Linked DNA regions of Homo sapiens: all the other regions are linked to region 4. Evidence: fine-mapped expression QTL. A gene starts in region 4. Each other region holds a variant in brackets. All regions are shown on one strand. Distances are between the middles of the regions. Region 1 overlaps RAB11FIP4 (RAB11 family interacting protein 4). Region 2 overlaps RAB11FIP4 (RAB11 family interacting protein 4). Region 3 overlaps RAB11FIP4 (RAB11 family interacting protein 4). Region 4 holds the start of RAB11FIP4 (RAB11 family interacting protein 4). Region 5 overlaps RAB11FIP4 (RAB11 family interacting protein 4). Region 6 overlaps RAB11FIP4 (RAB11 family interacting protein 4). Region 7 overlaps RAB11FIP4 (RAB11 family interacting protein 4).

Region 1 (4,064 bases), 130 kb before region 4:
CCCTGGCGAAAGGAGAAAGACAAATCTCAGAAACCTGGAATGTAGACTATCTGATAAGCGCCTGCCAGTCTGCAGTGATTCTCTGCTTCCTCCCAGAGGAAAGATACCAGAAACCAACTGAGAGAAAGAATATGATTATTATGTCAAAGACAATTTAGCCGTGAGCTTCCTATCAGCCAAAGCAAAATAGTAAGGACTATTTGTAAGCAAAATAGTAAATTATCATTCTTATTTTCTTTCTTTTTTTTTTGAGACAGAGTCCTGCTCTGTTGCCCAGGCTGGAGTGAGGTGGCACAATCTCAGCTCTGCAACCTCTAACTCCTTCAGCAATTCTCGTGCCTCAGCCTCCTGAATAGCTGGGATTAGAGGCATGCACCACCACGCCTAGCTAATTTGTGTATTTTTAGTAGAGACGGGTTTTGCCATGTTGGCCAGGCTGGTCTCAAAAACTCCTGGCCTCATGTGATCCGCCCACCTTGGCCTCCCAAAGTGTTGGGATTACAAGAGTGAGCCACCACACGTGGCCTTTATTTTTCCAATAAGTGGAAACATTCATTAGAGAGTAGGAACGCAGATTCTTCTTGTATGCATCCTTCAGATCCTCAGACAACACGGGGATGTCTTTCTGCTAGATGGAGAAACAGTCTTCTTGTGGCTTCTGTGACTGGGCCCTCCTGTTAGACTCTGTAACTTGAAGGCAATGATCATATTGGCTTTTCATTCTCCGCCAACAGCATCTCATCCAGGGCTCTTCTCTGAGCGCTCACTGCACCTCCCTCTGATGACCACAGGCATGGGCTCTGACAGTAATAATCCTCTGTGTTAGCGTTCACACAGGAATTCCACAAAGGGAATCCTAAAGGGATTCCACAAGAAGACAGAGCCTGGGTGTTCAGGTCAGTTTTTTGTTTGTTTGTCTGTTTTGAGACGGAGTCTCAGTGGCGTGACCTCAGCTCACTGCAACCTCTGCCTCCCGGGTTCAAGCGATTCTCCTGCCTCAGCCTCCCGAGCAGCTGGGACTACAGGCGCGCACCACCACGCCTGGCTAATTTTTGTATTTTTAGTAGAGATGGGGTTTCACCATGTTGGCCAGGATGGTCTCCATCTCCTGACCTCGTGATCCACCTGCCTCGGCCTCCGAAAGTGCTGGGATTATAGGCGTGAGCCACTGTGCCCGGCCTCAGGTCAGTTTTAAATGGTCTGAGAATAGGTGCAGGTGAGTTGGGCCGTCGGTGGCAGCAGAACTGAACAGGGTCACTTCTGGCAGTGACTCCTGCAGAGCATCCCGTTCTCAACCCACCACCTCCCCATCATGTCCTCTTTCCTGGAAGGATGGCTTCTGGGCCTCCACTGCCCTCTGGGCTCCAGAGAGGAATTCAGCCCCACCACCAGCAGGTGGCCCCAAGCGGGTGGAAGTGGTAGGGAACCAAGCATACGGCAGGACTCTGGGAACACCACTCGGATATTTTACACGAATGGCGCCCCCGGAGCTGTGTGACGGGCACACGTTAGGAGACAGTTCCCGAGGGCTGGCTTTCTGCACTTTGTCCTGTGGCCCAGGTTCACACTGTCTTTTACCACCTCCCGTGTCCCAGCCACCTCTCTTGGGCCAGCTGCCGAGGCGGGCTGAGCGAGAGCAGTCACCCTTAACTAGGCACCAGCCTCCAGAAACAGATGCAAAACAGCAGCTTCTAGAATAGAGTCAAAATGTAAAATGAACCCCTGGTGGGTAACTTAGCAAAGCAGGTCTCAGACACCGGGGAGTTGGGAAGTCTCCTCACCAAACTGCACAGGGGCAGGGACACGGGGGCAGGGAGGTACCTGCCTGAGAGCCCAACTCCCAGTCATTTGCTCAGCAGCCCACCAGCCGCCAGGTGGGGCTCGGCAACTCTGGGAAGCCTCAGCATGGAGACTGGGGCCTCAGGGGGCCTGAGGAGTGCCAGGGCAGCTGTCCTCTCTGCCAGAAGCCCAGGCGGCCTCCTCGGCCTCGGTCAAGGGCCGCAAAGGGGCTTCATCACAGA[G/A]GCATCATCATAGCCCTCACCCGTGGGCAGGGTCTGGACTTACATCGGCTCACCCACCCACACAGCCGCTCTGTGGGGCACACAGGGAGGTGACCCAGTACGTCCAAGGCCATGGAGCTAATGGGAGACCAACTCAGATCCCTGGCCCGGGGCTGCTCCTTGTCCCGCCTGCGTCACGTTCCAATGACGAAGCCACAGGTACACGCAAGGCACAGGAGCCGGGTTTTCCATTTACCTTGGCCCTGGGGCTCTGGCTCAGTCCACCAGGGGTCAGGGGAGAACCTGACAGCAGGGGGCGCTCCAGGCCTGGATGTGAGACCCAGCCCAGGCCCTTTTCTCTGACAGACATTTGTGTGGTTTGCATTACCAAATGTGAGCCACGCTCCTGGGAACATTCCTTAGCGAACTTCCTGAAGAGCATGCCTCTGTGTTTCTCGTGGTATTAAAGTGGAACTGTTACTACTGGAAAGTCTCAAGAGGCTGCCCCTCAGCCTCACATTCCCATCTATAAAATGGGGATAGCGCCTATCCCACAGGGCTGCCCCAGGACAGGGGGTCCCTCTGAGGGAGGGGGCTCGGTGGAGGGGCCCACCTGGCATTGAGCAGCTCCACCTCGGTAGCCTTCTCCCTCTCCAGCTTGCCGTAGGCCTCGCGGTGGCGCCGCGCCTCCTCCTCCAGAGCCTGCTCGGCCGTGGTCTCCTGATCCTTCACCATCTCCTCCAGCTCATGCACCCTGAGGACAGCGCAATGGGCAAGCTCTTGGGGCCTGCACCATTTCACCCCAACCCAGGCTGTGGCACGGGGGACCCTGGGCCCCGAGACCCTGAGTCACTGGCATGTCCACTGAGGGCGTGTGGGCCAGTAGCTTTCAGAGAGATGAACGGGGACACCGCACATATAGAGGGGGTGTCGGTCACACATGCCATGGAGGGGCAGGCCTGGCAGTCAGAAGGTGGGGCGCTCAGGGCAGCACAGGGAGGGACCGCCCCCACCAGTCCCTGCAGCCACACCTGGCCGGAACCACCTCAGGCCTCACCTCTTCTTTTTGTGCTGTTCCTTCCCGGCCACCCCTCTGATTAATAATTCAGCTTATTGGGCACCTTGACTCCCAAAATAGGCACATCCTGGCTGGTGGCCTGAAGTCTGCCCCAGACCTGGGACAGGGCCAGGGGCACGTAGATGTGAGCACCCCAGTGACAGCCTGGTTGGTATTTCGGTCTGGGATACGTCTCACTGGCAACAGCCCCTCCACCAGGCTGACCTTCTGGGGTGTACAAAAGGGCCCATCTTTGGGCCCTGTGACAAGTTGGAGGACCGGACCCCTGGCCAGGGTATGTCCCCCAAGGGTCATGCCATCTGGTGAGGACAACTAAACCCTGAATCCACCACTGCAGACAGCATCAGGAACGGCAGGCTCAGGGGACCTCCATCAGCAGCAGTGCTGGACCCTTCCCACCGCCCAGCTCACACTGGCCTGTCCCCTGCAGAGCTTGTCCCTAGGAAGGGACGTCAGGCTCCTGTCACTGTATGAGTGAGACACAGTGGATCCCCACTCCCATCTTGGACCAGCCCTGTGGCTTCAGACCTCAGGGGGTAGAATCCATTGGGCCTAGAGCCAAGGTCAAGCTCCAACCTGTCTCCCTGTCCCTAAGGTCCTGTCCTGGGCACCACATGTGGGCAGGGCCATGTGACAAGAGGCTGATGCGTCACAGACCCTCAGAGCTGCAAAGGCATGAGGCTGCCTCCTCCTGGAGGTCTTAGCAAGATGGACCCCCCTTTGTTCCCCAGCGTCACGGCCGAGCCCCCAGCGCCGCTGCCTGCTTGACCTGTGCACCAGCTGTGTGTTCTCTTGCTTCAGCTTGCTCTTCAGGTCCCCATTGGTCAGGCTGTCATTCTCCAGCTCTGTCACCTTCTTTTCCAGGAAGCTTACCTGCAGCAGGGGGCCGGGGTGGGGTGGAGAAGACCTCTGAGGCCACAGAACCGAGAACCTCGACGCCATGAGGTTCATGAGCAGGACCTCCAAACCACTGTGTATCTGAGAAC
Region 2 (4,064 bases), 100 kb before region 4:
AATTGCTAAAAGGAAACACATGTGAAAATGAAAACTCAGGCAAAGGGGGAGAAGGACGAGGGAAGAAGAGTAATGTCCAAGGATTATAAACTGAGTCAAGAAGCCCTTGGAACACCAGTTTCCCTCTGCTCCCTTGGGAAGGCCAGTGACCCACTCCCAGCCCTCATTTTCCCTCTTAACCCAGATGGAACGGGGCAGACCTTAGATGATACCCAGCAAGAGAAACAGGGAATGTTGCCTTGCACACAGCCATGACAACTGTGGAGCCACGATTCATATGTGGTGGGAGGAAAATCCCGAGGCTCAGAGAGGTCGCTCTACTTTGCCAAGGCCACACAGCTGGCGAGCCATAAAGCTGGAATCTAAGCCCAATCCAAGGTTGTCCCCTTGAACCACATCAGGGTCCCCTCATATAATCTGCCACCACTACAAGGTGGCTCCACCTGCATCCTTGGAGGAACTGGACAAATTATATAAGTTCCCCAGAGGTTACCTAGTTTCTATTTCATTAAATCTGAGACACCTCTGATTTTACAATGCACCGTTATTTCAAGTATGCCAAGAAAAAGGCGCTGTCAAATTATAATAATCCGCAAATGTGCGACACATTCCAATTTAAGATGTTAAATGGAAAAAAAGGAAAGGAAAAAAAGAATGTGCCTTAGAATCCCAGAAAATACCATGTAAGTGTGAGTAGGGAACAGGGATTCAGTCACAGTTCCGCAGACTGTGTGTGTGCAGTGAAGGGCAGTCAACAACTCCACACAAGCACATGAGCACACACCTGCTGCTATAAAATCCTTCTTTGCTAATAACTGATGCAATCGTGCAGATAATCATACAAAAATGTGTTGGCCAGACCTGCCTTGTCAACAAGAACCCTCATTTCACCAGGAGACCATCAATTCAAGGTTGCCTAACATCAGTCAGACGAGTCAAGCATGGTGGCTCATGCCTGTAATTCCAGCACTTTGGGAGGCCAAGGTGGAAGGATTGCTTGCGCCTAGAAGTTTGAGACCAGCATGGGTGACATAGTGAGACCTCATCTCTACCAAATGAATAAATAGCCGGGAGTGGTGGTGCACCCAGCTACTCAGGCAGCTGAGGTGGGAGGATCACTTGAGCCCAGGAGGTCGAGGCTACAGTGAGCCAAGATTGTATCGCTGCACTCTAGCCTGGGCAGAAATGCGAAACCCTGTCTCAAAAAAAAAAAAAAAAAAAAAAAAAATCAGTCAAGTGGAGGCTGTCCTGCCCACCTAACCAGCCAGGCTAGGCCAGGCTAGCCAGCTTCGCCTGAGTGGAGCTATAGACCTCTGGGCAGCCAAGCTGGATGACTCTGTGGTTAACTACCAAGGGCAGTCACCCAGTGTGGCTGGGCGGTGGCACAGCCTGCACCTTTTTGTCTGGCTTTTCTCCAAATCTCCTGGGGCTTGTGGCCAGCCAGAGCCTCAGCATTTTAATAAGGCAGATGCTGGGGGCTGGCAGTGGCAGATGGGCAGCACTGCTCCAAGCCAGCTTTTCCAGCTAGGCACAGGTGGATGGACAGGCAGGCCCTGGCTGGAGGTGAAGGGCAGGTGGGCCGAGGTGTGGAGGGCCATCCTCCCCTTGGCAGGCCAGCCACAGCCTGGCAGTGTGAGCAGCCTCTGGAAGGACAGGCTAGGTACAGTCTCCCTCACTGAACCTGGGGAGAAGTCTGTTACCTCGGAAGCTGCTTGACATCTCATTCACAGACTGCCACACAAATGCTAGTCACTTCACCCCAGACCCAGAATCTGTATCTGCAGAGCCCGAGCAAGGTTTGTTAAAAACACAGAAGCTGGCTGGGTGCAGAGGCTCATGCCTGTAATCCCAGCACTTTGGGGGGCCGCGGTGGGAGGATCACCTGAGGGCAGGAATTCGAGATCAGCCTGGGTAACATAGTAACACCTCATTTCTACTTTTTTTTTAAAAAAATTAAAATTAAAATTGAAAAAAAAGATTTAAAAACCCACAGAAGCTGA[G/C]GAAGTAGAGTTTTGCTTCTCTTGCAAAGGCCCTTGAGTAATGGAGTTTTTCCGCTGCCACCTTCCTGTTTGGGCCATGACACTCCCCGGCAAGACATTCTGTTAGGTGCGAAGGTTATTAGTCACAACAATCAAACCAGCTGAAGCCTGCAGGAACTAAGAATAACAGCTCACCCCAAAGCACAGTTTTAAGTGCTTTTCATACATTTACATATTTGAGCCTTACCACGAACCCTGTGAGGGAGGTACTAGCCTCATCCTCTTACCACGAACCCTGTGAGGGAGGTACTAGCCTCATCCTCGTTTTACAGGTGGGGAAGCTGAGGCACAGAGAAATTAAATAACTTGTCTAAGATTCCACCAATAGCAAGGGGCAGAGCCAGGATCTGAACCCAGAGACAGCCTGACTCTGAAGGCATTTTGGTACTAAACTGGCCTGCCTCTCTAACCATCTAACCGTCCACGAGTGTCAACTAAGTAAAGGCCAGAACCTAGACTGGGCATCTTAAATCACCATGGCTCATTTTATTTTCACCATCACCCTGCGAGGCAGGTGCTATTATCAACCCCATTCTACCTGTTGGGCACCCCAACCCTCAGCCACCCCAAAGCAGGGGGGTGGATGAACAGGATGCCCCATCTGAATGCTGCCTGACACGCAAACACACACGTGTGTGCACACACACATATACGATCTGGGGCCCTAAACTGGACAGACTAAACCCAAAGCTGCTGCCCAAATGTGGGAGTGACTCCCTGGGGTCCTTAGGACCCCACAGAACCATGCTGCTGCCTGCCCACAGGCAGAGGGAGTGAAGAGTGAGGCCAGGGAAAGTGAAATCAGAAGGGTGAGGTCGCCTGTCCAAAGTTCCACAACTAGCGAGCAACAGAGCCAGGATCTAGACCTAGAAGTTTTCTGGCGCCCATTTTTTCTCCTTAAGGAAACAGGCATTGGGTGACAAAGCGTGGGATGCAGGTGTCTGTGTCTTAGGTAGGCATTTCTTCCAGGAAAACGAGGGAGCAGGGGGCAGGGACTTGCTGCTATTCTCGCTCCTATTCTAGGAGGGAGACTTGAGTCTGGTGCAGAGGGTAGACACCCCTCAGCTCCCTTACCCCAAGTTCACCGGAGCAGCAGCAGCTATTTGAAATGTGGGTTCCCTTTCCATGGTATCAGGCTTGCACAGCGCAGGGGGGTGGGGGGTGACCACAGATGACTAAAGAGAGAGAGCCCGCCCACTCTCCCACACTCCAGTTCTGTTTAGGCCTTCCTCTTTCTGGTACCTCAAAAGAGAAAGGCTCCCATGAGCAGAGCCACAGATATTAATAACTTCTACAGAGCTTTGTTTTCATCTGAATTAATGTTTACATTGTTGGGAAAGAACCCACTTGTCTGGGAAGATGAAGCAGGTTAGATCAATTAAAAATGTGACCAACAGTTGGAAAACTTCCCATTTCTTAAGGTCAGTCAAGAAGTGGGTTTGGAAGTGCTGGCATGACTAGCACTGGCCTGCTGGGCGGTTCTGGGCTGGAGGTCACTCAGACCCCACAGCTCTGGGCCATCACAGCCACCCCTCTGACCTTCATACGACCCTTGTAGGCTGCACGTCCTTCTGGTTGCCTATGTTCTCCTCCCCGTCTCATCTCCTTTCCAGGTCATGCGAAAAAGTGAAGAAGTAACCACCAAGGTTGTCTGGGTGCTCAGGGGGGTTCTGAGAATCTGAGCTCTTGTCATCAATGCTCTTGAGGGGGGCTCAGCTCCTGAAGCACCAAGACGCTCGGGACCCCTCTGAGCAAGGCCAGCTGGGCGCCCCCAGCATCCACTCAGCCTTGAATGGGGTCCACAGAAGCTGGCCAATGACAAATTCCATTCAATTAACAGTATTATGATGAAGCTGCAAACACTTGGGGAAGGACTGCCATGTGTAGTCAGACACTTGGCATGAGATAATGAGAAAATAGCTCCAAATGAAAACAGATAAGGGTGCAGTCCAGGCTTCTGGGGGCACCTTCTCTGCAGCCTGCCACCCAGTGTGGGCTCCAGATCATGGTGCTTGGAACCGTGGT
Region 3 (4,064 bases), 59 kb before region 4:
GATCAAGACTGTGCCAAACAAGATACAGTTGGAGAGAAGAAATAAGTTCTAGTATTTGCTAGTACAGCAGGGAAATTATAGTTAATAATTTCTTGTATCTTTCAAAAAGCTAGAAGAATTGTAATGTTCCCAACACAAAGACAAAGGTTTGAGGTAATGGATATCCCAGTTACCCTGATTTGATCATTACACAACATATGCAGTTATCGAAATATCACATGTATCCCAAAAACATGTATCACTATTACACAGCCATTAAAAAAACATGCAGCTAACAGTGGTGCATACTCAAGGAAATAAGCAGGGTGCTCTGGCAGTGATGGGGGCAGGGTGGGGAGGGAGTTTCTTGAGAGGGTGGTGGGGGAAGGCTTCTCTGAGGAGGTGACATTTGTGCTGAAACCTGAAGGGCACAAGGGCAGCTGTGCAAAGATTTGGGGGACAAGGGTTCTAGGTGAAGGGGAAGCCAGGCAAAGGCCCTGTGCAGAACTCGCTTGGGCAGTTTGAGGAACAGAAAACAGGTCAGGGTGGCTGAACAGTGAGAGTCACCGGGAATCTGGGAGGGGCAAGGTCAAAGATTCAGGCAAAAGTGAAACCTTCGAGGCCACAGTGGGAAGTCAGGGTTTTGGATTTTGTCACTGGAGGCTCTTATGCAAGGGAGAGGAGGATGGGACTTACAATTTTTTTTTTTTTTTTTTTTTTTGAGATGGAGTCTCGCTCTGTTGCCCAGGCTGGAGTGTAGTGGCGCCATCTCGGCTCACTGCAACCTCCGCCTCCCGGGTTTAAGTGATTCTTCTGCCTCAGCCTCCTGAGTAGCTGGGATTACAGGCGCCTGCCACCATGGCCAGCTAATTTTTGTATTCTTAGTAGAGACGGGGTTTCACCATGTTGGCCAAGCTGGTCTCGAACTCCTGACCTCAGGTGATCCACCTGCCTCAGCCTCCAAAAGTGCTGGGATTATAGGTGTGAGCCACCATGCCCAGCCACTAGGAGTTACAAGTTTTAAAGAACACTCCGGTGTCATATGGACCACAAAAAACAAGAGAGAATGCAGGCCATCGGGGCACAGGTACAGGGTGCGGCTCTGCTGGGACTGGGGTGTAACCTCCAAGGTGGAGGGAAGTGGATGGCTCGGGACATAGTTTGGAGGTAAAACCATTAGGCTGTGATGATGGGTTGGATGTGGAAGGAGGAAAGAAATTAAGGATGACTTGATCCTTGGTCAGAGTGACCAGGTAGGGGAGGTGGTGCCATTTACTGAGATGGGGAGCCTGGGGAAACATTCTTGGGGCTGAGGGGACGGAGCTGGATCAGATCAAAGGGTGTAGCCTGGAACATGGTGGAAATGCAGAGGGTGCGCCACAGGTTTGACAGAAGAGACTGGAGCCGAAGGCAATGTCGGAGGGGAAAATACTATCTTGGGAGCCCTCAGGGTAATGGTGCTTTTAGAGTTCTGGGACCAACCAGCTCCCCTGGGGAGTGGGCAGGCAGGAAGCATAGGGGTGAGGACGAGGCCTGAGACCCAGCGCCATTTAAAGGGACCCAGGAGGAGGGCGGGCAAGGCTGAGGTGGACAGATCACTTGAGGCCAGGAGATCGAGACCAGCCTGGGCAACATGGTGAAACCCCATCTCTACCAAAAATATGCAAATTAGCCGGGTGTGATGGCGCCGTCCTATAATCCCAGCTACTTGGGAGGCTGAGGCAGGAGAATCGCTTGAACCCCGGAGGCGGAGGTTGCAGTGAGCTGAGATCACGCCACTGCACTCCAACCTGGGTGACAGAGGGAGACTCTGTCTCAATAATAATAATAATAATAATAATAATAATAATAATAATAAAGCCGGTGGCGGGGGGGTGGTGTGCGGGGAGAAAAGCAGCCTGAGAGGTAGGAGGAAGGCTTGAGCTAAAAGGACGATCTGAGAAGGGAGAGGTTGGCTGTGCCAGGCCCTGCCCAGGGTTCCAGTAAAATGTGAATGGAGCAGAGGACACTAGAGGCTGAGAATGGCAGGGGAAGGAGAGTAGGGAGACGTTTGTTAAAAGTACAGAGTTACAGTTCTAGAGGAGGGATAAGTTCCATTGTTCTACATCACTGTAAGATGACTATCATTAACAATAATA[C/T]AGAGTTTTCAGTAGCTAGGAGACTATCGAGTGTTCCCAAAATGAAGAAATGATAAATGCCGGAGATGGTGGATATGCTAATTACCCTGATCTATTCACCACACACCATCACTATGTAAAAATGTGACTAGAGAACTGATGCTTGGATTTGGCCAGTGAGAAGTTCCTGGTGGCCAGGCAAGGTGGCTCATGCCTGCCATACCAGCACTTTGGGGGTCTGAGATTGGAGGATTGCTTGAGGCCAGGAGTTTGAGGCTGCAGCAAACTAGGACTGCACTACTGCACTCCAGCCTGGGGAACAGAACAAGACCCCCATCTCTACAAAAAATAAAAATAGCTGGGGATGATGGCAGATGCCTGTGGTCCCAGCTACCTGGGAGACTGAGGTGGGAGGATTGCTTGAACCCAGGTGTTGGAGGCTGCAGTGAGTCAGGACTGCACCACTGCACTCCAGCCTGGGTGACAGAGTGAGACCCCTGTCTCAAAAAGAAGTCCCTGGTGACTGTGAGAAGTGTTTCAGCAGAACAGAGGGGCCAAGACATCATTGGGAGTGGCAACAGAGAGAAAGGGAGGCAAGAAAGGGAGTTGAGACCAGTCTTTGGAGGAAATAGACCAAAGGAAAGAAAGCCAGGATGTGTGGTCAAGCGGGTGCTTCCCTGCCCATGGGAAGGGCATTATTATGTCAGCTCCAGAAGCGAATGGAAAGGACCCAGCAGGGGCGTGGTGCGGGTGCTGTGGGTGAGGGGCTGTTTGTGAAGGCGAGTGCTTGAGTTGGCAGGAGGGGCTGGGATCCAGTGTTCAGGCGGTGTGCGGGTGAGGAGCTGGGATTGGAGGGCATGGCCTGTGTCAGAGCAGGGTCATGCCACTCACCATCCCAGCAGCAAGCTGAAAGTGTGGGTGCAGGTGGAGGCAGGCTGGTGACTTTGGGAATGGGAAGGGGAGGGAATTCTGTCCCCTGTGTCCTGAATGATTCCCCTGAGGGTTCTGAGTGGTACAGAGAATGCAGGCATAGGTACTACTGACTGGGGGACCTGTCTCCTCAGGAACCTTTAGAAACATTAATCCATTGCATTCTCACCACAACACTGAAAATCAGGCTGACGACTCTGATTTTAGATAGGCAGAAATGAAAAAGGCTCAGAGAGGTGAAGCGACTTGCCAAATGACACACAGAAAGTGGTCAAGCAGAACCCACACTCAGCCCGTTTGACTCAAACCTGAGCTCTTTCCAGGATTCTGAGCAACCTGGGTGAGAATTTGCAGTGTCTGGAGGATCTGGTCAGAAGGATTCTTACAGGTTCAGGGCAGCCCCAGACAAAGAGGGCTGGAATCAGGCCTCCTTGAGGCCAGCCTTGAGAGGAGGCAAAATTACATCATTCCTGGAGCCTGCCCATGGAGCTCATTCCAGGCCTCAGCCACGCGGGGTCAAATTTCCTCATTTCTCCCTCCCAGTGAAGACCTGTTTTGTTACTAAAATGAACACTGCATTTACTTTATTACAAGAAAACAGGGCTAGGAGAGGTTGCTCATGACTGTAATCCCAGTGCCTTGGGAGGCCCAGCTGGGAGACTTGCTTGAGGCCAGGAGTTTGAGACCATCCTGGGCAACATAGCTAGACCCGGTCTCTGCCAAAAAAAAAAAAAAAAAAATTAGCTGGATGTGGTGGTATGAGCCTGTGGTCCCAGCTACTGAGGAGGCTGAGGTGGGAGGATTGCTTGAGCCTGGGAGGTTGAGGCTGCAGTGACTGCACTCCAGCCTGAGTAACAGAGCAAGACTTTGTTTCTTAAAAAAAAGAAAAGGAAAACAAAATAGCAATAACAGTAATACCTTACATAAAGCGGCCCCACAGCAGAAGATGGACATGGGTCTACAGTAGAAGTGGGACTCGAAAGAGCAGCCTCTAAAGCAAAACAATTTAAAAAGTCTTTCCCGCAGGGCGCGGTGGCT
Region 4 (4,064 bases):
AGGGAGAAGGTTCTAATGGCAGGAACTGTCCAGCTGGGGGAGAAGTGGGTGAGGCTTGCTGGGCACGTGGCTGAGGCCGGTGGCCCCTGCCAGAGGTTGTTGGGAGGCCCTTCCCACTACTGAGGCTCTGAGTTCGGGGACTCCAGGTTTCAGCCAGAGCTGGTAGCTTCTTTACCCGACCTGCAGTCTGTGTTCTGAGAGGAAGGAGCGCGACTATCCCCATGCCAGGAGTCTGCTCAGCCTGCCCCAGATGGGAGCCACTGGAAAAACGGAAGGGCTTGGCTGGCCTTTGGGGAAGAAGGGTCATGGTGGCAGCAGGCAGTGTCCCTCAGCAAAGCCCCGCAGAGGGCAGTCTGGGCTCTCACAGGCACTGCAGTGGTCTTTCCTGTGGTGGGTACCTGAGTTCTCAAGCCCTGAAGCTGCCTCACTCTCTTCTGCCCACAGCTCTCAGCGACTCACAAGTCCCGGCCCATGCCCAGGTGCGGGTGGAGAGATGATTCTCAATCGCCTCCCACTCTCTGGTGACGCAGAGGCACGGGCCCAACCTGGCCATCACCCAGCTTCTCCCATGTTCTGAAATGCCTGGTCCGACCTGTTCTGGGAACACAATGCCAGCCAGTGCCCATTTGAGGCCCATGGCCCCAGGCCCCCCATGCAGGGCCTGAGGCCTTAGATGGCCTTGGAAACCCACTTCTCAGGGCTTTTGGCTCCAGGGGAAACCCCTGACCATTTCAGCCAGGTGGGTGTCTTGTCCTCCCCTTGAGACACAGTCCCCAGTCCCCATGCCGGTGGCACCAGAGGACACTGGTGTAGTGTGCGTTTAGTGATATGACTCCGTCCACCCTACTGGCGGCACCGACCCTCCGCTTCCAGCCCTGTTAACAATCTACGTAAGTCCTGCTTTCCCCAAATAGATGCGGCCCCGCCACATGAAAGCCCTCTGCTCAGCCACCACTCCCCGAGCCTGGCTTTGCCTGGCCTGCTGCAACCAACACAGCCAGCTGCCAGCCTGGCTGCCCAGCAGAGCCTGAATGAGAGGTCACCCGACACTGGCCCGGGAGTACACGGTGGCCCCAGCAGACACCTCCTTCCGTGTCTGGGCAGGGTGTGTGCAGCCGAGGAGCCAAGGCTGCAGAGCACCCCTACCGGTCCCTTTCACCCCCTGGCCCGGCCCAGCAGGACGTACACAGACCCTTGCATCTTGGTCTCCGCAGCGCCGGGTGGGGTGGGGAGCCTAGGGCCGGATTCTGGCAGCTCTCTCCCCCAGACAAGGGTGGATGTGCAGACCGCTCAGAAGGACCTGCATGGCCGAGGAAGGAAGGTGGGCGCAGAAGCCACCCTAGGCGTGACGCGTGACGCTCGGGGCACGGGCGCCGGGGGGCGGAAAGCGAGGGCCCGGCTGGGCCAGGGATACCCGGGGGGGGCCGAGGTCCTGGGCTCCGGCGGAGGGAGGGGATTGGGAGGGAGGCCACCGCCTCGGGCCACGCGGGTGACCCGGCGGGGGAGCTGGGGGAGGGGCGGCGGGGCTGGGCTGGGGTCCCCGGGCCGGGACTGGGGTCGGGCCAGCTTACCTCCTCGCCCTGGCCGAAGCGCAGTCCGAGCGCCGCGACGCGCTCCACGCGCAGGAAGCCGTCGGGGTCGCGGCCGCACACCTCGAACACCTCGCGCAGGCGGCGCACGGAGCGCAGCAGAGCCGCGGGGGCGCCCGACCAGCCCGCGCCGCCCGCCATCCGGGCCGGCCCGCAGCTCAGCCCGGACCCCTCGCCCGCCGCGCCCGCCGCCTGCCCGCCGCCGCCATCGCCGCGCGCCCTCCGGGGCCGCCCGTCTGGGTCTGCGCCGCGCAGCCTCCGCCCGGTGGCGGCCGCGGCCGATCCGTGTCAGCAGCGGCGCCGCAGCCCCAGCCGCTCCGGAGGGGAAGGGAGGGGAGGGGAGGGAAGGAGAAGAGTGGGGAGGGGAAGGAGGAGGGGCAATAGGGGGCGGGGAGGGGAGGGGCGGGGGCCGCGGCGAAAATGGGAGGGAGAGGGGGAGGCGGCGGGGGCGGCGGCGGCGGGGACGCTGCAGACAAAAGGAGCCCGCGTCCTCCCGAGTGGGGCGGCCCACGCGGGGCCGGCAGGCGCAGCGAGCTGCCAACGGCCGCGTCCTCCGCGACCTCAGTTTCCCTCCGCGTCCCCAGTTTCCCTCCGCGTCCCCGAGCCCACCCCTTCCTCTGGACACCCGGAGCCACCCAAAGGCCCTGCCCTGCCGGAGGATTCCGCGGGGTCGCGCCCCTTTCCGCTATCCGTGCCCGCTGCCGCGCCTGGCGTCTCCCGAGCGCTCAGGATGTCCTGGGGGCCTCCTGCATTGGCGCGTTCCGTGACTGCATTCATCCCGGAGGAAGCTGAGGCCCAGAGAGGTCGGACTCACTCTAGGCCACACAGCTGGCAAGAGGCAGGGCCGGGATTCGCTGCCATCTCTGGAGGGCTCTGGACTCCGTTCTTCACCTCCGCCCTGCGGTCTCCCGGCGCTCTCCTGCAAGACAGCACTTGTGGGGCCATCGGGCGGGGGAGGGCACAGAGAGGAGGAGCAGGCAACTGAACCCCAGCCTGGACCCGGGACCCTGCGACGGGGAGATGAGGAGAAAACCAGGATGAGGCCGGAGGGAGGAAAAGCGAGGCGCTTCCAGAGGCCTGCCTGTTCAGGGCCCAAGGCTGCTCCACGCCTGGAAGAGGCTTCCTCCCTTTCGCCGGGTTCCCACCATCACACCTCCCTGGCAGCCCGCATGCCCCAAGCTCAGAGAATCCAGGACAGAATCTCTGTCCCGCTGGCCGCAGGCTCTAGGTCAGGACCCTGGCCTCCTCCCATTAGTGCTCAGCGGAGCCTCCACCCCAGCTTGTGCTAACTTCCCAGCCCAGCCTCGGGGCCCTGCAGGACCCGGCCGGGCTCTTCTCTCCACCTTCTTGCTCGGCACATCAGGTCTTTGTGGCAACGACTGGCCCCAACCCAAAAAAAGGCCTTGGCTGAGTCTACTCCCACCTATGCTGTCATGCTCAGCACAGAGGTTTCCTCCTCCGGGAAGGCTTCTCTGATGGCACGCCATCTTATCTTCTATTCTGAGTTCTAAGCCCTTCTTCCAGGTGCCCAGTTAATTCTTAATTCTCTAGTGGGATGCCCATTTCCCCTACCATGCTGGGAAGCCCTCCAGGGCAAGATATGTCTTAATTACCTTCAAGTCCCTGATCTCCAGGCAAGAGTGGGCCCAGAGGAAGCCCCACCCAGAGGGGATGGGCCCGCCCATTATGTGAGGAGCCGGGAGCAACGTAGTGGCGCAGACAGGGAGTACGGGGTGAACTGCATGGCCTCCCCTAGCTGGGCCTCGGTTTGTACCTCTGTGGTCTTCCTGCTCAACCCTGAATATATCCTGCGCAGGGACTGCCATTTGCCTTCTGACAGTGGGCGGGGACCTCTTCTTTCCAGCCCCGGCTCCTGGGATGAACCTGGCTTTTAGCTACTCTCCTTTGACCCTTCAGTTCGTCTGAGAGCCACGAAAGGCAACACCTCTTGGGAAGAGAGACCTGTGGTTCTGAGGATTGAGGAGTCCGAAATGTGAGAAAGCGGGAAAGGGGAGGCCGTGGGAGTGGAGTAGGGGTATTCGGCTGAGTAGGAGCGTCTCTGCTAGCTGGATGCCGCTCAGCAGGATACTAGCATATTTTAGCCGGTTTCCTCGCCTGTACCGTGAGGATAATAGTACCTTCCTTTTAGGGCAACTGAAGATGAGAGCGAATCTAAGCAATGCTGCTTTCCCCCGACCTACCCTGCAAAATGGAGGTGGAAGTGGAGAATAAGGACAAGCAGCTGGCTGGGAGAGACTGGCTGCTGGAGATCCAGCCAGCCCCCTGGCAAGGAGGTAGGGAGTGGAAGCTGGGGGCTGCTGCCTGCCCCTGGGACCCCGATATTAGTTCGTCCAAGGTCAGCTCGTGCCATTTTCTCTCACCCAAGGGGCTCAGCACAGAAAGGAGATGGCCAGGAGCTGGGGCTGCCCCCTGGTGGGGGCTGCAGAAATGGCTCTCCGCGCTCAGCCTGGCATT
Region 5 (4,064 bases), 92 kb before region 4:
ATGATCTGCCCGCCTTGGCCTCCCAAAGTGCTAGGATTACAGGCGTGAGCCACTGCGCCTGGCTGACCCTGTCTCTATTTAAAAAAAAAATAAGAGTACCTATGTGGTGTATCATACCACTGGCTTTGAAATCAAACAGACTTGGGTTTGAATTGAGTCTTATTTCCCAGATGTCTTGGGACAAGTTCTGTTACTTCTCTAAGACTCAATGTCTTCATCTGTAAGATGGGAATGGTACCTCACAGGATGTTGTACACCCTAGCACAGTGACTACACTTAATTTTAGGCACTCCTCAAAGGTGTGGTATGCGATTGAGCCCATGCACCCTGGGCCCACTCTATCTGCCTTCCCATCTCCACCCTGAGACCTTAAGCTCAGCAGTGTCCCAAAAGGTTTTAGGATGTGGCTGAGTCCAGGGGTTCTATCTTGGTTTCCCTTCTTCCCTTCCAAGTCCGATGTTGCCCCTAAGGATTATTAGGCTCAAAGCAGGTCACATGACAGGATCGTCCAGAACCAAGAAAGAAAAGCAGAAACCAAGGGTGATCATCCCTTCTCTGGTCGTGACTCTCTCCCAGAGAAGGTCAATGGAGAAAGTCAGGCCTGTCAAGCCCCCTCCCTGTCCCCACCATGGGCAGCCTGAGCGACATTTCTCAAGAGCTCTATGGAACGGGTGGTATCAGTAGGTCCTTCTTTATTTTTCTCAAAGGTAGTGGAGTGGGGAATGTCTGCAGGTACTTGTCCTTAAAAGCAGAGTGACAGAGAAAGGCCACAGATGCATTGAACACTCCTGGGTTTGAAGCCTGCCCGGTTCCACTTATCAAGGGAAGTCAATGTTTTGGAGCCTCAGTCTCTACCTCTAGAAAATGGAAATAAGACATTTCCTCTTGCAGTTGTGAAGTTTCAATGAAATGATAAAGTGTCTAGTGCAATGCCTAAGATGCTGCAGGTGCTCAATAAATGGCAGTTCCTAGTCACTACCAGCAGCATGAGTGAGCTGCAGTCTGACGCACTGGTTCTGTGCATGGGTGCCGGGGCCAAGGGCCATATCTTGGCTTTACCACCTTGTTGCTAAATGAACGTAGGCAAGTTTAAGTCCCAGTGTCTCAATTTCCTCATCTTTAAATTGGAGATAATAATAGTATGTATTTTAGAACTATTGTGAGGATCAAAATAATCAGGACCAGTAAAATACATAGAACAGAGCCTGGCACAGAGCAGGTAACCAATAAACAGTAGCTATTACTAATGATCATTATGGCAAGAGGCTGAGGGGAACAGAGGTGAGGATTAGAGGCAGCCTGAGGGAAAATTTAGGACCCTGACTTTTGAGGGAAGGGCTAACACTTTCCAGCAGGGTTCAGAGAAGCAATGATAGTCCAGTGGGGGGTGGGGTGGGGATGGTGACTGTATCTGATGGGTGAGATTAGACACAGGATGAATATGGGATCTGAGGGCTCTAACACAGGCTAGGATTCAGTGTCCTTGGTTCAAACGGGGGCTAAGAGTGAGTTAATAGGAAATATAATCCTGCCTTCTGAGCATAGCACCACCTATGAGGATGTGGGGAAGGAAGGTCTTGAGTTAGGTACCCTGGTCTCTTAGCATTACCTGTGAGGTTCCTTTTTTTTTTTAAAGAGACAATGTCAGGCCCGGCGCAGTGGCTCACTCCTGTAATCCCAGCACTTTGGGAGGCCGAGGCGGGCAGATCACCTGAGGTCAGGAATTCGAGACCAGCCTGGCCAACGTGACGAAACCCTGTCTCTGCTAAAAATACAAAAATTAGCTGGGTGTAGTGGCGAGCGCTTGTAATCCCAGACACTCTGGAGGCTGAGGCAGGAGAATCACTTGAACCTGAGAGGTGGAGGTTGCAGTGAGCCAAGATTGTGCCACTGCACTCCAGCCTAGGTGACAGAGGAAGACTGTCTCAAAAAAAAAAAAAAAAAAAGATAAGATCTTGCTCTGTTGCCTAGGCTGAAGTGCCGTGGCACAATCATAGCTCACTGTAGCCTCAAACTCCTGGGCTCAAGCAATCCCCCCACCTCAGCTTCCCAAAATGCTGGGATTACAGGCATGAGCCACCATGCCTGGCCTCTCTGTGTCTATTTTCTTTCGCTGCCACCATGCAAGAGTTAGCTCAACATTGGATGGTGTAAAGAAGCAACATTCTGCACATGTTTGGGGCCATGTGGAACGACTGGCTAAATATATATATATATGGTTTCATGATCATTATTTTGAGAAAAGAACCCTTCTGAACATTACCTAATGTTAACATTAGCCAAGCAACTGATGCCAACCAATATTAGCCAAGTGAACAAACAACAGCTGACATAAATAGTATTGGAGCTAAAACAAAAAGTCTGGCAAGTTGTTCTCAAACTGAGTTTGTTGGAACCCTCAGGGTTCTGTGGAG[A/C]CTTCGCAAAAGGGAAGATGTGCTCCAGGGGAACCACAAAAATAGCTCCACTTCTGTCTGCTGTACATGCTGTCTTCTGTATGAAACTTCATGTGAATAAAGGGTTCTATGGCTTTAAAAATATTTAAAATCACTGGTATAGTATAACCATTTCCCAGACAGGGGAATGAGCCCCAGAGGTGGGAAATGGCATCTCCCCTCACAAGTAGCACACTCAGTTAGTGGTGGAGCCAGGAGTAGAGCCAGGTTGCATTACTCTCAGTCTAGTGCTCTCCAAGGTGGACACCAGTCATTAATCAGGACTGTGAGCATCAGTCAAACCTGGTCCATCTTAGCAGGGCTTGATTCTGTCAACGCACACACAGAGGACATTCTTTCTTTACTTTTTTTTTTTTTTTTTTTTTTTTTTTTGAGATGCAGTCTCACTCTGTCACCCGGGCTGGAATGCAATGGCATGATCTCGGCTCACTGCAAACTCCGCCTCCAGGGTTCAAGCGATTCTCCTGCCTCAGCCTCCTGAGTAGCTGGGACTATAGGCGCATGACACCACGCCTGGCTAATTTTTGTATTTTTAGTAGAGACGGGGTTTCACCATGTTGGTCAGGATAGCCTCGAACTCCTGATCCCGTGATCCGCCCGCCTCGGCCTCCCAAAGTGCTGGGATTATGGGTGTGAGCCACTGCCCCCGGCCAGAGGACATTATTTCTGCCCAGCTGGGGCTCTATGTGTGGAAAAGCCCCCCTGGCAGCTGGCTAGGACTTTACCACAAGTACTTGTCCTCTCTCACCTCTCTCTCAGAGGTCCATTGACTCCACGCTCAGGAAGTTCAGCTACAACTCTTAAATCTCAGCTTTCATCCCAGGTGGTAAATTCAGTATTTGATGACTTAAGCAGTGGCTTAGGGAAGGGACTACCAAGCAAATAGGCAGGACTCTGAGACTGCAGAGGCCTCTTGACCCCAAAGGAAAGTCATTCCTAATTTTTTTTCTTTTCTTTTTTTTTTCTTTTTTTTTCTTTTAGAGTCTCCCTCTGTCGCCCAAGCTGGAGTGCAGTGGTGCGATCTTTGCTCACTGCAACCTCTGTCTCCTGGGTTCAGGTGATTCTTGTGCCTCCGCCTCCTGAGTAACTGAGATTACAGGCATATGCCACCACACTTAGCTAACTTTTTGTATTTTTAGTAGAGATGGGGTTTTGCTATGTTGGCCAGGCTAGTCTTGAACTGGCCTCAAGTGATCTGCCTGCCTCGGCCTCCCAAAGTGCTGGGATTACAGGCGTGAGCCACCGCACCTGGCCCCCAATTTTTTATTTAGAAAAAAAATGGGAATGACTCTTGGATCCAAAAGCCCTCTCTCGCCAGTGGGGATGTGTCTAGGGGTCTGCACTAAGCTGGCATCTTCTCTGACCACTCCTTCCTCTGCCTCTTCCCACCAAACCCAGTGAAGATGCAGGAGGCCTGGGTTCTGGGCTCTCCCTAACTTTTTGGGCCTCAGACTCCTCCCCTGGAAGAGCTTTTAGCTGGACAGCACATCTTTAGGTCTCTTCCAATTCTGCAACTCTGTGCCAGCCCAGGAGAGGATCTTGGACTGTGGAAACAAGGTGTTTCCCTTGGCAAACACTCCGGTGTTGGTGACTGTCCACTGGCCGGGATGA
Region 6 (4,064 bases), 120 kb before region 4:
ACTTTTCACCTTCCTGGCCACACGGGTAGCGAGAGTTCCCCCTTGCTGGGAATGCCCGCCCTGTGGCTCATGTGAGAGCTCAGCAACTTGGCAATGGTGTTTCTTCTGGACTTCACCGCAGCCCGATGAGCTGAGCCTCTTTTCCCCTTTCTGTAGGTGAAGGGTCTTGCCTGGGGCCATGTGGGAGTTTACAGCCGGGTCCGGACATGATTCTGTTTCCCCAACACCCACCTTCCCCCTACAGCCACATCCTGGGGAGGCTATGGCCCACCAGCTCCCAGAGGCAGGCAGAGGGCCCAGTGCAGATCAGCGTCCTTGCTCCTCAGGTGTCTGACGTGGCCTCTGGCCACTGACACGAGGACACAGAGGCCGAGTGTGTGCCGGGCACTGCCCCACTAACACCTGGCTCATGACATGCAGGTGGAACCACCGGGCCCTCTCACCCAACATCTACAGCAGCGTCCTGATACTCCCAGCAGCTGGCCCAAGCCCCTGACCGGGTGGAGAGAGCAGCCTCAAATGGCTTGGCTCAGGCACAGGCAGGGCAGAAGCAGGGGCACCAGGTTCCCACCCTCCAAAGAAGACCACCACCTCCTCGGGCAGGCTTTCAGCCTTGGACTAAGCAGAGTCCACATCTGCCCAGCCCTTCAGCAAGCTCCTCGCCTGTCTCACACACCCCATCCCTCACAACAGCCCCGTGCGAGCTGCCTGGGGTAGACAGGGCAGAGATCTGGGATTCATCAGCTCCGTCTGACACCTGGGGAAGATGAGGCTCAGAGTGGGAGAGTGGCTGCCCTGGAACCTTGCAGTTCACAGAGGGCCTGCAGGGACCTGACACCCGGCTGACACACCAAGTCCTCACCTGCCTGGCCACACATGCGCACACACTCTCTCCAGCTTTTTCTCTTAAAAATGGCTATTCCCAACATTAATACTTTTTCATTCAACCCACAGTTGTTTGTCCAAGGCAATCGGAAATTTTAATTATAACTTTAAAACCATTTCTAGTAGTTTGCCCCCTAAATTCAAATATAATAAAGACAGTTTACTGCACGCCTTGGTTAGCCCAGGACAGTACTGGTTTATGCCTGTCCCAAGATCCCCTTGGTTTGGTATTTGCCATGGTCACCCTTGCTCCTCCCTGAGGGCCAAAGTCCCCAGCCCCAGCTCTTGTTTCCCCGGCCCTCTGGGGAAGGGTCTGGTGGAAGCCCTTGCTCCTTCTCCCGCCGGCCTGGAGGGGAGATGCTGGAAGGTGCCAGAACGCAGCCTCTTCTCTCTCCTTGAGCCACCATTCATGGGCTGGGAGAACTCGGAGTCAAGCATACTAGGACTCTTCTTGGCCAATTTCCCTTTTGTATGTTTTTTAGATAAAGTTGCAGAGGAAAAGGAAGAACTTGGCCATAATAAAAACATTGCCCTCATAAGGTTTCCAGATGGCCTGGGGGTCACAGACTTCTGGAGGCGGTGGGTTCCTCTCCGGCCAGGCTGCCTGCAGGTAAGAATCACGCGGAGCCCCCTGTTGAGCATACTTCCAAGTAGACTGGGGGTCATGGGAGAGGATACCATCACCCCACCTCACCGCACTATGCTCGTCAGGATGCCCAGAGAGCTGCCCGCTCACCCCAGCTGCACGGTCTACATCCTCACCACAGAGGCGCCCACCCAAGCCTGGCTCTGGAGGGCTGGCAGGAGTGGTGGGGCAGGGACAGGGCCTCCCCAGAGCTCATGTTTCTAGGTGGC[C/T]GGGGTCAGCAAGTAAGGTCTGTGCCCAGGGCAGCTTCCAAGACTGCCTCTCAGAGCCCCGGTTTCCTGCCCATTCCCGCCTGCTGTGTGAAAAAGGAGTCCACACACGGCCGTCCAGTCACCACCCAGGGACCCTACACATGTCCAGGCCTGGAGCTTGGCCTGGTGTTCCCAGGGTTTGCACAGAAAGGCTGTGTCTGCTCTTTTGGGGGCCTTTGGGGAAGGGACAGTGTGGTATCCTCAGGAGGCAGCACCGGGCATCGTCTCTGGCACAGTCTGACTTGCCAGGGCTCTGTCCCTCAAGACCCAGAGCCAGCCCTGAGCTCACAGCTCCCTGTACCCTGGGACACAGGGCCAGCCACCATAGGCCCACAGGCTTGGCTGGTACATGGCCACACCACCCCAGGCTTTCTTCCACCTGCCAGCGGACCCCGGGGTGAAGGGAGAGAGCGGATGCAGCAGCGTGTTCCTCCAGAAGCCCCAGGAGGCCCCTGGGGGTGGGCTTGGGTGAGGGCTCAGCTCTGGGGCCTAGCAGTCTGGGTTTCCGGCCCTGCTGGCCCAGCCACTTACAAGCCATGTGACCTTGGACAAGTGACCACCTTTGTGAGCACCTGGCTCCTCACCTACAGAATGGGGCCAGTCAACTCCACCTCAGTGGCAGCTCTAGGGGGCCACACGTGACAATTTACACCGGAGAGTCGGTCACGGTAGGAGCCGTAAATTCTGACCTGGCCTCACGAGGGGCTACAGGCAACAGAGGGTGAGCTATTCCTACAGCCATGGGTCCCCGGCTGGTCAGCCAGCAATGTCCTGGACAGACGAGCAGCCAGGAGGGACGCCCACCCTCCTCAGAGAAGCCAAGCTGAGGAATTACCTGAGGCCAGGGCATTCTGGAGAGAGCTGGAGAACAGGATCCAGCCAGCCACTCTGGCAGGGCAGGTCTGCATCCCCTGCACCCCTACCTCGCTGTCCCACTGTCCCACCCTGTCCCCAGCAGGGAGTGGGAACCTAGAGGCACACAGCCTGCCGTGGGGCCCTCTCCAGTCTTGAGAGCCGTGTTCGCCTGCCAGCAGGCCCCAAGTCACCCCTTCTTTTGTAGGAAGTTGGCAAGGGATGAATTCAGGGCTGCTGAAAAGGCCAAGTATCAATACACGTGGGGGCCGTCCCAGCCTCAGAGTGGCCAACAATGCCACACTGTCCACACTCTCAGAGCGGATGCAGCATCTGGTCCTCTCCCTCCCCACCTCCCCCATGGGGAGCCACCTCACAGGCACACGCCAGCACCCTGCGTTTCCCTGAGCTGACACACAGAGTACATGGACCCCAAGTGACCACATGTCCACCTTCCCTGTGAGAGCAAGGACCCTAAGTGGGTAGCTATGGGGATTTACATGTCAGAACCCCAGTGGTTAGCACTGTAGAGAGCACATGGCAGGTGGTGGAACCATACTGTACTGCAGTATGATGAGCTGGGAACAGCACAGCCACAGGACCCTGAGACCTGGGTGCCGACTCTGGTGTGGTCACTGCCTGACTGTCTGATGCTGGATCAGCTGTTTAATTTCTGGGCCTGATGTAAACACGGGGAGGGAACCACCTGCCTGGCAGGCTGCCACAGGGAACTAGGACAATGCCTTGTGTCATGAGGGCGCGGAACACACGGCAAAAGGAGGCGCGGGGTGGCGTTAAGGACAAGCTCTGGAGTAGACGGCCAGGCCAGAGCCCTGCTCCACCATTCACCATTCATGAGCTCTGCAGCTTCAGGGTTACTGAACTGCTCAGTGCCTTAGTTTCCCCATCTATAAAATGGAGTTAACTGTGATTAGGATTAAATGAGCTGCTACACATCCTAAGCACTTTATGGTCTTAGCACACACAGAAAGTGCTCAGAAAACAAAACAAAACAAAACAAAAACACAAAAACAACAACAAAAACAAAAAAACCCTTGGAATGCAGTGGCGCAATCACAGCTCACTGCAGCTTCAAACTCCCAGGACTCAAGTGATCCTCCCAGCTCAGCCTCCCAAGCAGCTAGGACTACAGGTACACACCACCACACCCCAAAACTGAACTACTATTGTCGTCATTGTGTTGAAGGAAAACAATCCAGGGTACCTCCTGGCCTCCTGGCTCCCATCCAGCCCCTGGGACCTCTCCCTCTACCCACCGTGGCTCACTGGGCTGCAGCTCGGCTGGGTTTTTTTGGCTGCAGGAAGCCAGACCTGCAGGTTCCAGAGCCTGCCCTCCAAACATCAGTGCCTCTTTCTCCCCACCAGGGTCCTCTCCTGCCCACTCTTATGGAAGGTCGCCCTGCACACGAGTC
Region 7 (4,064 bases), 28 kb before region 4:
AGAGCTTTTGGAGGCTGAGGCAGGTGGATCACTTGAGGTCAGGAGTTCAAGACCAGCCTGGGCAACATGGTGAAACCCCATCTCTACTAACAATACAAAAATTAGCTGGGCATGGTGTCCTGTGCCTATAATCCCAGCTACTTGAGAGGCTGAAGCACGAGAATTACTTGAACCTGGGAGATGGAGATTTCGGTGAGCTGAGATCACACACTGCACTTCAGCCTGGGCAACAGAGCGAGACTGTCTCAAAAAAAAAGAAAAGAAAAGAAATTTTAAAACAAGCAAAAAAATCAAAAACAGAAAGGCATCTGAAAAATCCTCAAATACTTGGGAATTAGGCAGTATGTGTCTAAATAATTCATGAGTCAAAGATGAAGTATCTTTTTGTTTGTTTGTTTGTTTGAGATGGAGTTTTGCTCTTGTTGCCTAGGCTGGAGTGCAATGGCGTGATCTCGGCTCACTGCAACCTCTGCCTCCCGGGTTCAAGCAATTCTCCTGCCTCAACCTCCCGAGTAGCTGGGATTACAGGCATGCACCACCATGCCTGGCTAATTTTGTATTTTTTAGTAGAGATGGGGTTTCTTCATATGGGTCAGGCTGGGCTTGAACTCTCGACCTCAGGTGATCCACCCCCTTCGGCCTCCCAAAGTGCTGAGATTACAGGCATGAGCCACCGCACCCAGCCCCAAAGTCTCAAGAGAAAATAAAAATAATTTAAACTAAATGAAAATGAAAATACAATACCATAAAATTCAAGCCCAAAGCAAAAGGGAGGAAAGAAATAATAAAGATAAGAGCAGAAATTAATAAAATTAAAAATGAGACTGGTAGAGAAAAATCAACAAAACCCAAATCTGGTTTTTTTTTTGAAAAGATTAACAAAACTGATGCATCTCTAACCAGAATGACAGAGAGAAAGAGAGAGAGAATACAAATCACCAATATAAAAAATGAGGCTGAGCACAGTGGCTCACACCTGTCATCCCAGCACTTTGGGAGGCCAAGGTGGGAGGATCGCTTGAGACCAGGCATTCAAGATCAGCCTGGGCAACATAGCAAGACCCCATCTCTACAAAAGATTAAAAAAATTAGCCAAGCATGGTGGCACATGCCTCTGGTCCCAGCTACCGGGGTTGGGTGAGGTGGGAGGATCGCTTGAGCCAGGGAGGTCAAGGCTGCAGTGAGCCTTGATTACACCACTGCACTCTAGCCTGGGTGACAGAGTGTGACCTTGTCTCGAAAAAAAAGAAAACAGAGATATCATTACAGTCTTACATCCTTTAAAAGGCTAATAAGGGAACACTAGAAACACTTCTACACACATAATTTCTACAACTTAGATGAGCTAATGGACCAATTCTTTGAAAAACACAAACTACCAAAACTCATGCAAGAAGAAATAGATAATCTGAACAGTCCTTGAGTGATTAAAGAAATTAATTTCCCAATTTATATCCTTCCAAAAAGGAAAACCTCAGGACCAGATAATTTCACTAAGTATTTAAGGAAAATATACATAAATTCTACACTACCTCTTCCAGAGAATAGAAGAGCCACTTCCCAACTCGTTTTATGGGGCCAGCAATAATACCCTGTTACCCAAACCAAACAAAAGCAATATAAGAAAACTACAAACCTGCTGGGCGCAGTGGCTCATGCCTGTAATCCCAGCACTTTGGGAGGCTG[A/G]GGTGGGCGGATCATGAGATCAGGAGATCGAGACCATCCTGGCTAACACAGTGAAACCCCGTCTCTACTAAAAATACAAAAAATTAGCCGGGCATGGTGGTGGGCGCCTGTAGTCCCAGCTACTCGGGAGGCTGAGGCAGGAGAATGGCGTGAACCCGGGAGGCGGAGCTTGCAATGAGCCGAGATCGCCCCACTGCACTCTAGCCTGGGCGACAGAGTGAGACTCAGTCTCAAAAAAAAAAAAAAAGAAAAAAGAAAACTACAAACCAATATCCCTCATGAACACAGATGCAATGAGCCTCTGCAAAATATTAGCAAATCGAATCCAGGAGATATATATGAAAAATATAACAAGACAAGCAGCCGAATGGGGTTTATTCAGCAAAGCTGGCCCAACATTTGAAAACTAATGGATGTAATCTAAACATGACCAAAGAAGAAAAACCTATCAAAAGATGCAGAGAAATCAAGTGGCAAAATTTAACATCCATTCATGATACCAAAAAAAAAAAACAAAAAAACTCTCAACAAAGTAGAAATATAAGGGAACTTCCTTATCCTTCCTTATCTTAGAGAAATGAAAACTTACATTCACACACACCCACACAAAACTGCACAAAAATGTCCACAGCAGCATTACACATAATCACCCAAACCTAGAAACATCCCCAGTGTCTCTCAACAAGTGAATGGATAAGCAAGTGTTCCCTAACCAAAAAGAACAAATGATTATGCTACGGGAAAGAAACCACTCCCAAAGGTTACAAACTGTATGATTCCATTTACGTGCAAAAGGCAAAACCATAGTGACAAAGCCAGATCAGTGGGTGCCAAGAGCGAGGAGGAGGGACTGAAGACAAAGGAGCAGCCGGAGAGAATTTGGGGGATGAGCCGTTCTGTCCCTGATGGCAGTGGGAGTCACAGGAGTCTATGTAAATAGTGACACTTCTTCCCCCACCCCCAAAAAGCGAATTTTACTGTATGTAAAGTAAAAACAATTTTTTAAAATTTTTCTTTAAAAATCAAGGGAACTGGCTGGGCACGGTAGCTCACAGCTGTAACCCCAGCACTTTGGGAGTGGGTCAAGGCAGGAGGATCGCTTGAGCTCAGGAGTTCCAGACCAGCCTGGGCAACATGGCAAAACCCTGTCTCTGCAAAAAATGAACAAAATTAGCCAGGTGTGGTGGTGCACGCCTGTAGTCCCAGCTACTTCGGAGGCTGAGGCGGGAGAATCACCTGAGCCCGGGAAGTCAAGGCTGCAGTGAACTGTGATTGTGCCACTGCACTCCAGCCTGAGTGACACAGTGAGACCCTGTCTCAAAAAAAAAAAAAAAAAATCAAGGGAACTGCACATACAAAGTTGGATATCTGACTTTAAATTTTTATTTTTATTTATTTTATTTTATTTTTTTGAGACGAAGTCTCACTCTTGTCTCCCAGGCTGGAATGCAATGGTGCGATCTCGGCTCACTGCAACCTCCGCCTCCCGGGTTCAAGCGATTTTGCTGCCTCAGCCTCCTGAGTAGCTGGGATTACAGGTGCCTGCCACCACACCCAGCTAATTTTTGTATTTTTAGTAGAGACGAGGTTTCACCATGTTGGCCAGGCTGGTCTCGAACTCCTGACCTCAGGTGATCCGCCCGCCTTGTCCTCCCAAAGTGCTGGGATTACAGGCATGAGCCACTACGCCTAGCCTATTTTTATTTTTGTTATAGACAGGGTCTCACTGTCACCCAGGCTGGAGTGCAGTGGCATGATCATAGCTCACAGCAGCCTCGACCTCCCAGGTTGAAGGGATCCTCCCAACTCAGCCTCCCAAGTAGCTGGGAGTACAGGCATACACCACTACACCTGGCTAATTTTTTGTAGAGATGGGGTCTCATTATGTTGCCCAGGTTGGTCTTGAACTCCTGGCCTCAAGTGATCCTCCTGCCTTGACTTCCCAAAGTGTTGGGATTACAGGCATAGCCCCCATGCCCAGCCCCTGGCTTTTCTTGAAAAATCAGATCTGGCAATACAGGTCCCATATTCCCCCACAGCAACAATGAGCGACAGCTGAATTCAAGCACACTCTTTAGAAAGGGAATGTATTCTGCTCCCCAGCTGTCTATGGGAACCCCCAAATCTCAAGTAGTTCCCCACCGCAGCCCCACCTAGGCTGCATTCCTTCCTGGCCCCCATGGGCATCGGAGTGGCAATTCCTGCTACCCCAGGCACTAACCTGGGCTTGGCTGGGCACCTGACATCGTCTATATCCACAAAAGGGGTTTCAGGGCTTGGCTTGGAGTAGGGTGAAGTTGAAACTCCCCAGCATTTTTATGCTGTTTTAGCAGCCACAATAGAAGACAGATGGGAAAAGAGGGGAAAGGACAGTGCCT

The links.
Region 1: its variant is fine-mapped to the expression of RAB11FIP4 in whole blood (TOPMed, PIP above 0.99).
Region 2: its variant is fine-mapped to the expression of RAB11FIP4 in whole blood (INTERVAL, PIP above 0.99). The same link has a PIP of 0.9 or more in CD4 T cells, lung, monocytes and neutrophils.
Region 3: its variant is fine-mapped to the expression of RAB11FIP4 in whole blood (TOPMed, PIP above 0.99).
Region 5: its variant is fine-mapped to the expression of RAB11FIP4 in whole blood (TOPMed, PIP above 0.99). The same link has a PIP of 0.9 or more in T cells, blood mononuclear cells and monocytes.
Region 6: its variant is fine-mapped to the expression of RAB11FIP4 in whole blood (TOPMed, PIP above 0.99).
Region 7: its variant is fine-mapped to the expression of RAB11FIP4 in whole blood (TOPMed, PIP above 0.99).

What each region holds. Positions count from the first base shown.
Region 1 is chr17:31,523,780-31,527,843 of GRCh38, reverse strand. It overlaps RAB11FIP4 (RAB11 family interacting protein 4), which reads right to left. Exons shown (of 15, transcript NM_032932.6): 9 at 3,848-3,951; 10 at 2,614-2,754; 11 at 1-2. Among named protein-coding and RNA genes, the nearest start is that of MIR4724, 9.1 kb to the left of the region's middle. RefSeq lists enhancers at 1,604-2,218, 2,159-2,453, 2,834-3,448. The variant G/A (reference allele first, on the strand shown) is at 2,022.
Region 2 is chr17:31,492,531-31,496,594 of GRCh38, reverse strand. All of the region lies in intron 3 of RAB11FIP4 (RAB11 family interacting protein 4), which reads right to left. Among named protein-coding and RNA genes, the nearest start is that of MIR4724, 40 kb to the left of the region's middle. The variant G/C (reference allele first, on the strand shown) is at 2,001.
Region 3 is chr17:31,448,095-31,452,158 of GRCh38, reverse strand. The region is part of intron 3 of RAB11FIP4 (RAB11 family interacting protein 4); the gene reads right to left. Among named protein-coding and RNA genes, the nearest start is that of RAB11FIP4, 58 kb to the right of the region's middle. The variant C/T (reference allele first, on the strand shown) is at 2,118.
Region 4 is chr17:31,389,519-31,393,582 of GRCh38, reverse strand. It overlaps RAB11FIP4 (RAB11 family interacting protein 4), which reads right to left and starts at 1,908. Exons shown (of 15, transcript NM_032932.6): 1 at 1,572-1,908. The coding sequence starts at 1,730. RefSeq lists an enhancer at 2,104-2,693.
Region 5 is chr17:31,481,954-31,486,017 of GRCh38, reverse strand. All of the region lies in intron 3 of RAB11FIP4 (RAB11 family interacting protein 4), which reads right to left. Among named protein-coding and RNA genes, the nearest start is that of MIR4724, 51 kb to the left of the region's middle. The variant A/C (reference allele first, on the strand shown) is at 2,415.
Region 6 is chr17:31,510,616-31,514,679 of GRCh38, reverse strand. The region is part of intron 3 of RAB11FIP4 (RAB11 family interacting protein 4); the gene reads right to left. Among named protein-coding and RNA genes, the nearest start is that of MIR4724, 22 kb to the left of the region's middle. The variant C/T (reference allele first, on the strand shown) is at 1,741.
Region 7 is chr17:31,417,423-31,421,486 of GRCh38, reverse strand. The region is part of intron 1 of RAB11FIP4 (RAB11 family interacting protein 4); the gene reads right to left. Among named protein-coding and RNA genes, the nearest start is that of RAB11FIP4, 28 kb to the right of the region's middle. RefSeq lists an enhancer at 4,019-4,064. The variant A/G (reference allele first, on the strand shown) is at 1,687.